Homo sapiens: one gene and its partner. The protein of the gene in region 1 purifies or fractionates together with the protein of each later gene. This does not show direct contact. Each region holds a gene or a part of one and is shown in the gene's direction. Other genes may lie near its edges.

Region 1 (7,033 bases):
TGACTCCAATGGATATAGCACCAGGTTCAAGAGGCTACCTTCTTTGGAAGAGGTAGCAAACAAGATACGGGGTTTTACTGGGGGCTTAGACACAGGGAAGAGAGTCCAGTGGCGGCAGACTGAGCAGAAGAACCGCAACCACTTGCAAATCATGCAGTTTATGTAGCATTTTCATTTAACACCTTCTCCCAACCATCTCCACCTAGTAACCTTCATTTAACCCAAAACAAAGGGCCTCGGTCCCTATACCCCTGTATGGTCAGTGTCCCGTGGGAATGGGGTGGGGCTCAGATGTTCCTCATAGATAACGACTGGATCTCCAGGTTGGCCACTCTTGGATTCCTTCGCTCAGAACTCTGAACACCCATTCAAGTGTGCCTGCCATGCAGGGTCATCGTCAGGGGATGCCCAAGTCAAGTTTGCCCTGTCGGGTGTGCCTCCCATACCCCCACCTGGTTTGACTTAGCACCTGCTGGGCACTGGAAGAAGTGGAAAGGGGGGTTGCAGGGGTGGCCCTTATCAGCCTATGTTCACAGGTGGCACCAGGCACTCAGGCATTCTGCATCCTGGAGGCCAGTGCTGATCACATGCCTGTTACAATAATCATAACAATAGCTGTCCTTGAAGTAGTCCTGGGTACCAGGTGCCTTCAGTGACTTTTTCTTTTTTGCCAGAATCTCACTCTGTCGCCCAAGCTGGAGTGCAGTGGCAAGATTTTGGGTCCCTGCAACCTCTGCCTCCTGGGTTCATGCGATCCTCCTGCCTCAGCCTCCCAAGTAGCTGGGACTACAGGCGTGTGCCGCAGTCTCACTCTGTTGCCCAGGCTGGAGTGCAGTGGTGTGATCCTGGCTCACTACAACCTCCACCTCCCGAGTTCAAGCCATTCTTCTGCCTCAGCCTCCGGAGTAGCTGGGATTACAGGCGTCCACCACCACGCCCGGCTAATTTTTGTATTTTTAGTAGAGACAGGGTTTCACCACGTTAGCCAGCTGGTCTCGAACTCCTGATCTCAGGTGATCCTCCCACCTTGGCTTCCCAAAGCGCTGGGATTACAGGTGTGAGCCACTGTGCCCGGCTAGTAACTTTTATCTCACGGAATCCTCTGGACGACTTGACAAGGCATGGGTCTTCATCCCCATTTACAGATGAAGAAACTGAAGCTTAGGGAGTGGAGGGACTTGCCAGGGCTACACAAAATCTGAGAGCCTTGAAGCTGTAGACTGGCAAGTGAACAGGTACAGGCTGGGACAGCAGTTTCTTTCTTTTTTTCTTTTTTTAGACAGAGTTTCGCTCTTGTTGCCCAGGCTGGAGTGCAATGGCACGACCTCGGCTCACTGCAACCTTCGCCTCCCAGGTTCAAGTGATTCTTCTGCCTCAGCCTCCCAAGTAGCTGGAATTACAGGCATGCACCACCATGCCCGGCTAATTTTTTGTATTTTTAGTAGAGACGGGGTTTCTCCTTGTTGGCCAGGCTGGTCTCGAACTCCCGACTTCAGGTGATCCGCCCACCTCAGCCTCCCAAAGTGCCGGGATTACAGGCATGAGCCACCGCACCCGGCCAAGGGACAGCAGTTTCTAAACTGTCCCTCTCTGATGCAGAGGGGAATTGGGGCTAAATCAGCAATGTGCCTTTTCTGTCTCATATTTGAATGTCTACTCTGCACGAGGCGCTGTCCTGCTTTGCATACAGTGACTCATTTAATGTTTATGTCAGCCCTCTGAGGAAGGTCCTGTCCTATTATTAACTTCACTTATTATGAGGAAACTGAGACTCAGAGAGGGGAGGGAACTTGCCAAAGTCACACAGCTGGCAAGCAGCAGAGCTAGACTTGAACCCAGATCTGCCTGCACTCAAGTAGAAGCTGTTCATTGCTTTGCTCATTTGCCAATTCCACTTTATGCAAAAAAGAGGGGGCAGTGTGGGGGGAAGAGTTAGAATCAGGGTGGCAGGGTGGGCCAGTGCATTAGCCCTGGGCTTCAGATGTACTGGGGTTGAATTCCTGCCTGCCGCTTAGCAGCTAGGGTACCTCAGGTAGACAACTCCTGAAACTCAGCTTCCCCCTCTGTAAAATGGGGTGACAAAACCAAGATCTTGGGGTTCTTGGGGAAACTGACATGCTGATTGGTTTTTGTACAGTGCCTGGCTGGTAACAGCAGGCCCTCAGGGGTGCGTTTCCTTCCTGGGGACTGGAGTGGGGGTTGCAGTAGACTCTGGGAGGCCTCTCCAGCTGCAGAATCTCCCTCCTCCCTCCTCCTTTTTGTCTTCCTGACACAAAACCCACCAGCTGCACTTCTTTGGGCTTGCAGTGGCTTTCAGTTACCAGAGCCACCTGTTAAAACAAAAATGTGCCTAGGAAGAGCCTGCCTTACCCATTTTGACTCACATGGCAGTTGGTGGTGGAGGGGAACAAAGGAGACTGAGTTTCATCGAAGCCTTTTGCTTCGGAGGAGGAAGGGAGGATCAGAGAGAGGAAGTGGTCTGTGTTCACACAGGGAGGCAGGGGAGGCCAGGCAGCTTCCCAATCCTGCATTCAACCTCAGGGTGGGCTTGACCTGGGTGGCTGGGGGCCCTGTGATCCAGGAGAGACTTGTCCACCTGCTCAGGTGTCTTGAAGGGGTCCCTGTGGTACCCCCTGGGGCGGGGCAAGGTAGTAGGACCATGGTCTGGCTGGGGAGGTGGAGAGGAGCAGGCTGTGGGCGCAGAGTGAGGTTGGAATCTGTATTTACCCAAGGTGTTGGGGGTAGGCTTGCCCTCAGCCCTTAATGTTCTCAGGCCCCTGAGCAGTTGTGGGGGATAACCTCTGCACTCCTAGTGACCAGGGAGCTAGAACAGCAAGGAATTTGAACTTGGACACCAGCTGGGGTCAGGCTCTCTGGGTCTGAGTCCTGATTTCCCACTTTCCAGCTAGAGGAGCTTGAATGAGTCATTTAACTTCACGGTGCCTCAGTTTCCCCTCTCTAAAATGAGAATTATACCCATACCCACCTCTCAAACACCAAGTGCAGGCCTGGCTCAGAGCAGGTGCTGCAGCAATAGCTGCCATTGGTCAGCATCATCATCATGGTTGGTAATGGTCCTACTTTGACTTTTGAGACAGAGTCTCACTCTGTCGCCCAGGCTGGAGTGCAGTGGTGCAATCTCGGCTCACTACAACCTCTGCCTCCCGGGTTCAAGTGATTCTTCTGCCTCAGTCTCCCAAGTAGTTGGGATTACAGGTGTGCGCCACCATGCCTGGCTAATTTTTGTGTTTTTAGTAGAGACAGGGTTTCACCATGTTGGCCATAACAATGGCTGTCCTTGAAGTAGTCCTGGGTACCAGGTGACTTCAGTGACTTTTTTTTTTTTTTTTTTTTTGAGCTGGAGTCTTCCTCTGTCACCCAAGCTGGAGTGCAGTGGCACGATTTTGGCTCACTGCAACCTCTGCCTCCTGGGTTCATGCGATCCTCCTGCCTCAGCCTCCCAAGTAGCTGGGACTTGGGATACACTTGCCCCCGCTGGTCCTCCCTTCCACCTCTGTGAAGAGGAGGTCTCAAACTCCTGGCCTCAAGTGATCCACCCACCTCAGCCTCCCAAAGTGCTGGGATTTCAAGAGTGAGCCACCGCACCTGGCCCCTGTTTAGATGTTAGCATCAGTGACCCAGCACCTTGCTATGTGGCATGCAGGGAGCGTGCTGCTAGACCTCCGGGTTTAGAGTCAAATAGCTTCCTGGCTGTGGTATGCATTAGACTTTCTAACTCAAGGTCCTCCCACTCTCTGAGCCTCAGTCTTGTTGCCTTTAAAACGAGTTTAAGTGTGCTGAGTCCCTATGCTGTGGCTCCACAGGAATTTCCCCAGGTGGAAGACACATCTTGCCTTCTGTGAAACCTCTCAGCAGCAGAGCTGTCAGGCCCCGTCAGCAGGAGACACTGTGGGGACTGCTCAGTCCCTTCCACTGTGTACCTCGGAGCTGGCGGAGCCTAGATGAGGCTGAGCATAGAGGGCTTCCTGGAGGAAGTGGAGCTGAAACAGTTTCTCAGCCCAGGGCTGCTCTGTCTCCTGGCCTCACACTAAAAGTCAGTTGAGAGGCCATAGTGGCATAAGTCACTGACCCTGGCACTGCCCAGCTCATCACCAAAAGCAGGGCTAGGGAGGGAGGGGACATTCGATTGGCAGTGGGCACCTGTGGCTCATCTGGGTTCTGGCCACGGTGCTCAGGTTCTGTGAGCTGACCAGGCAGCCCTGGCTCCTCTGCCCCCGTGTGGGTTCTGCCAGGTCCCATGGGGGCAGGTCAGCCCCTTCCTTGTTGCAGGGAGAGCACCCAGCATTGCTGACATGGGACAGGGAAACGAGGAAATAACGGTGTGGTCATTGAACACAGAGAGCACTAGGTGCTGTGCGAGGTGCTGAGGACACGACATGATGACACAGACAAGGTCCCCCCTCTCAGCAAACGGCTCATGAGGGAGACAGACATGTTACATACATGAACCCAAAAAGTCAGACGAAAACAAAACAGAGCGATGTGTTTGGGAGGCAAACCCAACTGCCGGAGGCGAGCAGGGCGTCTACCTCCAAGGTAAACCCAGTCAGATTAGTTGTCCCCAAGGCTCACCAGGGAGAACTAATCTGACTAGGTTTGCCTTGGAGGTAGACGGCCCTGCTCGCCCTCCAGCAGTTGGGAACGTGGAAACATGAGTCAGATCTGGGAGTATCTGTCCCAGGAGTCCAAGACCTGGGTCCTCATGGTAGCTCTGCCACCGACACACTGAGTGACCTTGGGTAAGTGAACCCACCGCCCTGGACCTCTCTGGCACGCATCTCTTGAGAGCAGGGACTTAGTGCATTTCCCGAGGGCCTCCACGGTGCCTGGCACATAGTGGGGCTTAGTAAATATTTGTTGGTAACTGAGGATGCTTCCTGTTCACATCAGCGCTGGGAGGATTTCCTGCTGTTCAGACAAATGCTGGGCTGGCTGTGAGTCAGCCTTGCAGAGAGCAAAGGCAGTGGGAAGGGGCGTGAGATTCCCCTCTGGAGAGGTCAGGAGGCCAGGCACTGTCTCGACATGAGTGCCAGGGAGGGGGTGTGGCCTGTGGGCAGGGCTTGGGCTGAGGCAGAGGGACTTGAGTTCCACCCTAGCTCTACCACCATCAATTTTGTGTAACTCTGGACAGGCCACTGAACTTCTCCGGGCTTAGCCTGGCAAGTCCATTTCCCCATCTGTAACATGGGCCGATATGTACATTGCCTAGGGATTAAATGAGATAAAGGGTCTGAAAACAGTAGGTAGCTGCTTTATCATTATTATTATTTCTGTATTATTGATGTCTGAGGCTAGGCCCACAGAGGCAGTACAGTAGAGTGGTTAGGAGCTCAAGAATCAGACTAGGGTTCAAATTCTGACTCCATCACTGACTGTTTTGGGGTACTTCTTTGAACCTCAGTTTCTTCATCAGTAAAATGGGAGTGAAGTCTCTACCTTGCTGGTTGTAAGGATGAAATAAGATAATGCATATAGATGGTCTAGCACATAGTAGATACTCAAAAGTTTGAGGCCACTGCTGACCCTTTTCCCTGAAAGGAGACAGGAGAGCGGGGTCGCCACCCCATTGTCATTGTCATCTGGAATAGGCTGACAGACTTCCCATGGTGTGTTGCAGTTTTCTAGAAAATTCAGTAGGAGGCCTGCCTGAGCTTGAGCCACCTGTGGAGGTGGCTTCCTGCCTCTGCTCCACACCTGAAACGCGTCTGGGCCTCTTCTCAGGCAGCCGTGAGAAGGGATGAGTGCTACTGGTCATGGTGGGCAGCTGGCTCTGCTTTCCCCCTTCCCAGAGGCGCTCCTGCCTCCTGCCCAGCTCCCTGAACCCCTAGCTTCTGCACCCCGGCACTGTCTGGCTTCTGCCCCGCTGAGCACCCACTGTCTCTGACGCTGCCTTGAGTACTTCCCGCATGTTATTCAAATCCCAATCAGATCTTCCCTCCCGCAGTAGCTGGTCTTCTGTTCTGGCTTCCTGCCATCCTGTCCTCCACACAGCAGCCGGGAAAGGTTTTTTTAAAGGGGACTCTCCGATTTAACACACTTGGGTGGAAAACCCTTTGCTTCGGCCTCTGCAATCTCCCTGCCCCCTCTCCACTTTGCCCTGGCCTCATTTCTCACCACTAACCTCACTCTGCACTCTGGCCAACTCCCCGCCTGCTTCCTGATTCAGACACTAAGCACACGCAGCTCCCCTGCCTGGAGCCATTCTCCCTCTCCTTCTTTCTTCTCCCTGGCGAACTCCCCCTTTAAGTGATCTTTTCCCAACACACTTTCTAAATTGCCCCCACCCCAGTGTGATTTTTCTTTATCTCATAGCACTTGGTCTGCTTCTTATCACAGTTTGCAAGGCTGAGTTCAGAAAGGTGTGTTTGCTCATTCTGAGGCAGGAGAGGCTACCTTGTGCTGCTGTGGTAACAAACAGCCCCCAGGTCTGAGGGGTCTGCAGAGACCCAGGTTGACCTCATACTGCTTGTCCCTCCAGGGCCTCCAGTGAGGTTTCGGCTCCTTGGATCACTCAGGGCCCCAGGCAGATGGGAAGATTCCACTCTGAACATTGCCAATTGTTGTGCCAGAGTAAAGCAGAGCTGGGAGGTGGGCTCTTGAATTGGCATTTAAATACTTTTGCCAGGCAGGGTAAGGCAGCTCACGCCTGTAATCATAACACTTTGGGAGGCCTAGGTGGGTGGATCACCTGAGGTCAGGAGTTCAAAACCAGCCTGGCCAACATGGTGAAACCCTGTCTCTACTAAAAGTACAAAAATTAGCCGGGCATGGTGGTGGGCGCCTGTAATCCCAGCTACTTGGGAGGCTGAGGCACGAGAATCCCTTGAACCTGGGAGGCAGAGGCTGCAATGAGCTGAGATCTTGCCACTGCACTCCAGCCTGGGCAACAGAGCCAGACTCCATCTCAAAAAAAAAAAAACAACAACAACAAATAAATAAATGAATAAATACTTTAGCCAGAAGTAGCCATGCAGACCTCCCCCCACCAGTCCCACCCACAAGCGGACGTGAC
Region 2 (7,033 bases), on another chromosome or scaffold:
CTGCAACCTCCGCTTCCTGGGTTCAAGCAAGTCTCCTGCCTCAGCCTCCTGAGTAACTGGGATTGCAGGCATGTGCCACCATGCCCAGCTAACTTTGTGTTTTTAATAGAGATGGGTTTTCTCTATGTTGGTCAGGCTGGTCTTGAACTCCCGACTTCAAGTGATCCACCTGTCTCAGCTTCCCAAAGTGCTGGGATTGGAGGTGTGAGCCACCACGCCTGGCTCTCTGCCACCATTTTCAAGAGTATTGTCATCTGCCTGAGCAAACCTGGTTCATCACCACCTCTTTGCAAGAGAAAAAGGAAGTCGGGAGAATTGTGTGTAATTTTTTTTTTTTTTGAGATGAAGTCTCGCTCTTGTCCCCCAGGCTGTAGTACGATGGCCCGATCTTGGCTCACTGCAACCCCTGCCTCCTGGGTGAAAGCAGTTCTCCTGCCTTGGCCCCCTGAGTAGCTGGGATTATAGGTGCCTGCCACCACGCCCGGCTACTTTTTGTATTTTTAGTAGAGATGGGGTTTCACCCTGTTGGCCAGGCTGGCCTAGAACACCTGACCTCAGGTGATCCACCCACCTCGGTCAGCTGTGTGTATTTTAAGGCAAAGATTCACAACCAAAAACAAGGCTTTATTAACTTTTGTATCTAAGAACCTGCAGTGTCGAGCCCTCTTTTATTCCTAGTATTACTACTTTAGGTGTGAACTTTTTATCTTTATTTTACTGATTCCTCTAGAAGTTTATGCATTTTCTTGACTGCTTTAAAGACAATCTATATTGTATCATTTTTCAAGCCCGTAGAAATGTGTAAGGCCTATAATTTGAACACTTGTTATTTTTAAGGTTATGAGCATGTAATATACCGTTGATACATGGAAGAATATGTATAAATACCACTAGATAGGTTATATTGAAGAGATAATATCTAAATTTTTGTCCAGAGTTGATGGGGTGCAGTTTTGTAGGTGTGTTTCTCAATACATTGTGTCCATGTTTTAAAGCATATAGAAATTTGAATACTGTTTAACCTCATATAGTCCTTGTTTATAGGTTTAATATTTCTAAAGACTAAAGACGTCACAGCTCCCTTTAAGATTCAGTAATACTAATAAAATTTGAGATATACAGGGTTAGAGTCCAACAAATTCAAAGGAAAATTGTTGAATTATATAGCCGTAGAGCAGGAATGAAACCCAGGTTCTAAGTTCCAAGGGGGCCATGAGCTACCATACAGGTGCATCAGTGACTGGGCATAGAGGTGGCAAAATTATTTAAGAGAGTGAGCTGTGGATCCTAATTATGTGAACATGAATTTTTGAACTGCATGGTGCCTCAGTTTATCCATCATTACAGTGGGGACAGTAGTAAGTTTTTCTTTTTCTGCTCAGTTGTCTGAATTATTACCCCAGTCTCTCTTGTTGCCACTCTTGATGCCCACATGAGAGGATCTAAGGTAATTTCTGACAACCTGGGACTCCTTAAGGAAAAACAGAAGGTTCCACAAACCCCATTTTAGGAGAAACCTCTGTTTTCCTCATGGAACCCCAAGAACTTTAAGCAGACAGGTCCCTCTCAAAAATCTAAGGCTCTGCTCTGTTTTGCCTTGCGTTGTCTGACCTTTTTGGTTTGGATGGGCATCAGAAATTAGTAGGGGAGAGAGATCTAAAGAAAATTGTGGATATGAAGATGTATTTATTGTAAGAAATGTTATGAAGGAAAGAAATGTTATATGAGAGAGGATCTTATATGGCAAATTGTTGTCCTAAAGTAGAATGACTAATTACAAAAGAGGGAAATACAGGACAGGTCAGATAAATTTAATCATGTTGTAGATAGTCTGTGGAAGTTGTGTTATGATTCATAAAGTGGGAAAGAAAAACTGAACAACTGCTAGATCTTTTCTTGTCTAGAAGTGTTGTGTATGTGATGTATATATAATGGCTCGGCTTAAAAGAAAATGAAAGCTCTTAAATATTTTGTAAGAAAAATAGAAGCTCTAATGCCTTTTATTTCATGTGACTTCAGTAATCTTTGGGAAATAAAGATGGTGTTAAAGTCAGTGGTAAAATAAAAATATCTTCAAAATTTATCCATTTGGTCTAACTTAAGTCAGAGGTTAAGTTTTAGAAGTGCTTTAATGTCATAAATTGATGCTTTGACTTTGGAAAATAGTTTTGTTTACCTGGTTTGGAGCCGTTAGATTTCTAGGTAAGGTCTCCGGACAGGTGGAGTTAGCCATGTCTCCTAGCTATGCTGGAAGGAGTCAGATTTTATCTGCAGTTCTGTCTTGTATCCTAGACTCTGCACCTGGTATGCAATTAAAACTTACTGCTGCTGCTAATCTCTGGGTTCCATTTAAAATCCTTCCATCACATGAATACTATCCCCTGTACTAAATTTTTCCACAATTAAATACTTAGAATCATTTTTGCTGACTTGACCCAACCATTAGTGATATATTTTAAAAATGCTTATAATGTGTCACAATATATTTAGCAAATGTAGGGAATGACATTTTTACTTTCTTCAGCATTTACATAGCATTTATGTAGCAATGCTATCTCAAGTATTTTTAATCATTTAAATGTTAGATAATAGATATGTTTTTTATTCCTTTTTTCTATGTAAATAAATATAATTATGAGATATTTAGTAAATAGTATCAATTGCATATGTCACTTACAGAATATACAATGAAATTAGGATTATTTTTATACACTACATCATATTTACTTGTTGGCTTTCCAATAACTTAGAAATAGTATTCTGGATTAACTGTGTGACTCATGAGAGAGGGAGTTTGTGCAATTATAGTCTTTACAAATTTTTACTAGATTTTTCAAGACTTATGCTAGAACTTTGAGAACAAGGTAATAAATAAGCATATCTGTTAATATCACCTTTGGTCAACTCTTGGCTAGACCCAATGATAATGTAGGAATTAACATAATTTTTCTACTAAAGGTGTTGGATTTGTTCCGAGAGACCACAGTTCAAAGTCATTGACAAAGAAAGTTTAAAAATTGTTAGATTAAAACCTTTTAGTGTGTTTGAAATTGTTTTGTAGAAAAATATCCTGGTTTGCATTGATAGGTTTTTTTTTAAATAACAACTAGACCAAGAGAAAGGGAGAGTAGTGATAAATGTCCATGTTTTCGAGTTGAAAAGTAACAATCAGTGTATTACAACAGATGGATTTGATGTCAAATTACAAATGCTGAGAACGTTATATGTAACTGACTTGCCAGAGTAATTATACAAGGCAAAGAAAGGAAAGGCATCTAAATAGGAAGGGAAGGGGTGAGATTGTCTGTGTTTTAGACTCCACAAAAAACCCATTACAGCTGATAAACACTATATTCAATAAAGTTGAGAGTTACAAAATTAACATTGGCTTCTATACACCAATGACAAACTGTTATCTGAAAAATAAGGTAATTCCATTTATAATAGCAACAAAACAAATATATAAGTAAATCAAAGAGCAAGGAGTAATTTTAATGAAGGATGTGAACGATTTGTATACTGAAAATTATAGCACATTGATGAAAGAAATTGAAAGTGACAAATAGAAAAAGTCCTATATCAATTGAAAAAATTAATATTGTCAAAATTTCAATGCTACTCAAAGCATTCTACAGATTAAATGCAACCGCTGTCAAATTCCAATGTCATTCTTCACAGAAATAGAAAAATTAGTCCTAAAATCTGAATGGAACCACAAAAGATGCTGAAAAACGAAAGCAATCTTTAGCAAAAAGAACAAACCTGGAGGCATCAGACTACCTAATCTTTGACAAAGCAAACAAGAAAATGGGAAAGGACACCCTATTCAACATATGCTGCTGGTATAATTGGCAAGCCACATGCAGAAAAATGAAGCCGTTCTTCAAAGGTTAAATACAGAATTACCACATGACTCAGTAAATTCACTCCTATGTATACACCAAAAATAAATTAAAACAAATGCCTTACACATAAAAGTATTTATAGCAACAAAAAGTAGGAAACAACAGAAATGTCCATGAATTTTGGAGTGGATTAATAAAATGTGGTCTGTCCATAAAATAAAATATTACTTGGCAATGAAAAAGAAAAACATATTAATACATGCTCCAAAAAGGATGAACATTGAAAACATGATAAATGAAAGTAGTAAGTCACACGTAACTATATTATTATGATTCCACTTACATGAAATGTCCAGAATAGGCAAATCCTTCCAGAATAGGCAAATTCTTAGGTAATAGATGGATGATTGCCTAGGGCTGGGAGAGGTTTAAAGGAAGAATGGGGAAAATAGGGAAAGATTGCTAATGGGTGCAAAGTTTCTTTTAAGGAGCATAAAAATGTTCTAAAATCATGGTGATTGTTTAACTAGTTAATACACTTAAAAAACTGAATTTTATACTTTAAATGAGTGAATTAAATAATATATAAATTGTATCTCAATGAACCTGTGAAAAAAGTTAAAAAATATGTGGTATGCATAAACAAAAAGTTCTTCATTTTATTTCCTAGGGTTTTGGGGAAAAGGTGGTGTTTGATTATATGAGTAAGTTCTTTAGAGGTGATTCAGGAGATTTTGGTGCACCCAACACCTGTGCAGTATACACTGTATACACTGCACCGGGGCAGGAGCTGGCTGCAATCCTGTGGCCCCAAATGCCCCCTTGCTGATGGCCTCGTGTTCTGGGTGCGGAGCAAAGAGGAGCAGGTGTTGAAGGCACCTCAGGCAGGCCCTGGGCTCGGTGGGCGTCTTGTGCTCCGCGATTTTGAGGCCATTTGCAGCCAGCTCCGTCAGCCCGAGCTCCCAGCTGCAGCTGCTGCCATGCACAACAGCACCGCCAGGAGTGTCCTGGGGGCTTTTTTCAAAGGAGGCTGTCAGCATCCTCAAGTTCCAGACGCTTAGCCCCAGTCCTCCTTTAAGAGGCTTTTTTTTTTTCACCAGAGGCTTCTCAGTGGCTTGAAAGCTCAGCTGACTCCCACGAAGTTTGCCGGAACTCAAGGCTGTCAGTGACATTCGTGGCGCCAAGACTTAAGCAGGCGCGTTGCATGCATCGGCCAGTGTCTGTGCCACGTGCCCTGACGCCACCTGAGATAAGCACGCCGCACGCGCACGCGCACGCCGCGCGCACACGCCCGGCAGCAGCTTGGCTGGCTTGTAACGGCTTGCACGCGCACGCCGCACGCGCATAACGGTTTGGCCGGCCTGTAACGGCTTGCACGCGCACGCCGCACGCGCGTAACGGCTTGGCTGGCCTGTAATGGCTTGCACGCGCATGCTGCACGCGCTTTAACGGCTTGGCTGGCCTGTAGCGGCTTGGCTTGGCTTTGCGTTCTTGGCTTGGCTTGGCGTTGGTAGCTTGGATTGACGTTTCCTGCTTGGATTGACGTTTTCTCTCTCGTGTTCCTTTGCTGGGCTTGACCTTTTCTCTGCTGGGTTTGGCATTCCCTTGGGTGGGCTGGGTGTTTTCTTGGGGGCGGGGGTTGGCCCTTTCTGGGGTGGGCGTGGGGTCGCCCAGGGGGGGCGTGGGCTTTCCTCGGGTGGGTGTGGGTTTTCCCTGGGTGGGGTGGGCTGGGCTGGAATCCCCTGCTGGGGTTGGCAGGTTTTGGCTGGGATTGACTTTTCTCTTCAAACAGATTGGAAACCCGGAGTTACCTGCTAGTTGGTGAAACTGGTTGGTAGACGCGATCTGTTGGCTACTACTGGCTTCTCCTGGCTGTTAAAAGCAGATGGTGGTTGAGGTTGATTCCATGCCGGCTGCCTCTTCTGTGAAGAAGCCATTTGGTCTCAGGAGCAAGATGGGCAAGTGGTGCTGCCGTTGCTTCCCCTGCTGCAGGGAGAGCGGCAAGAGCAACGTGGGCACTTCTGGAGACCACGACGACTCTGCTATGAAGACACTCAGGAGCAAGATGGGCAAGTGGTGCCGCCACTGCTTCCCCTGCTGCAGGGGGAGTGGCAAGAGCAACGTGGGCGCTTCTGGAGACCACGACGACTCTGCTATGAAGACACTCAGGAACAAGATGGGCAAGTGGTGCTGCCACTGCTTCCCCTGCTGCAGGGGGAGCAGCAAGAGCAAGGTGGGCGCTTGGGGAGACTACGATGACAGTGCCTTCATGGAGCCCAGGTACCACGTCCGTGGAGAAGATCTGGACAAGCTCCACAGAGCTGCCTGGTGGGGTAAAGTCCCCAGAAAGGATCTCATCGTCATGCTCAGGGACACTGACGTGAACAAGCAGGACAAGCAAAAGAGGTAACCAGGCCTGGGCTGGGAGGAGGTGGGACGTGGGGGGATGATGGGGACATACCCTCCTGGCGGGGGAGGAGGGGGACCTGGCTTTCTCGCCTCCGCAGGCCTCACACCACCCTGGATGTGGAAACCTCAGAGAGGTCAGGGTACAGGGCCCTTTATGAACAGCAACACAAAAACAAAACTTTAGCTGATTTCCAATCATAATTTCCCTCATAGAACACTAATAGACTGTTTTAAAGTGATTTAACTTGCAAAATTAATTAAGTCAATGCAGCAGATTATTTTTAATCTACAGATTTTAAAACAATGTTCTATACATTATAGAAAAGTGTATATTGAGAACTAAGAACGAAGCCCCATAACACATCAACTTCAGGGCTAAATATTCTTCAAATAAAATCCAGTATGGATTTTATATCAATGTACAGTATGTAAATATGTTCTTTACTGAGGAACCTTAGAAGGAAACTGAAATGGGAAGATGGTTCCTGTGCTTGAACAGGAAGATTGAATTTTCTTAAGATGTGAGCTTTTTGGCTGGGCGCGGTGGCTCACGCCTGTAATCCCAGCACTTTGGGAGGCGGGCGGATCATGAGGTCAGGAGATTGAGACCATCCTGGCTAACACGGTGAAACCCTGTCTCTACTAAAAAATATAAAAAAAATTAGCCGGGTGCGGTGGTAGACGCCTGTAGTCCCGGCTACTCAGGAGGCTGAGGCAGGAGAATGGCGTGAACCCGGGAGGTGGAGCTTGCAGTGAGCCGAGATAGTGCCACTGCACTC

The links. The genes of interacting proteins can lie anywhere in the genome.
Region 2: the proteins of ADA (region 1) and POTEF purify together in Homo sapiens (affinity purification with mass spectrometry; 3 studies listed by BioGRID and IntAct, with this or other methods). This does not show direct contact.

Annotation. Positions count from the first base shown.
Region 1 is NC_000020.11:44,641,680-44,648,712, reverse strand, and holds part of ADA (adenosine deaminase), read left to right. Parts: intron 1-7,033.
Region 2 is NC_000002.12:130,119,213-130,126,245, reverse strand, and holds part of POTEF (POTE ankyrin domain family member F), read left to right. Parts: intron 1-4,947; exon of another isoform or gene 4,948-5,637; 5' UTR 5,638-5,730; coding exon 5,731-6,251; intron 6,252-7,033.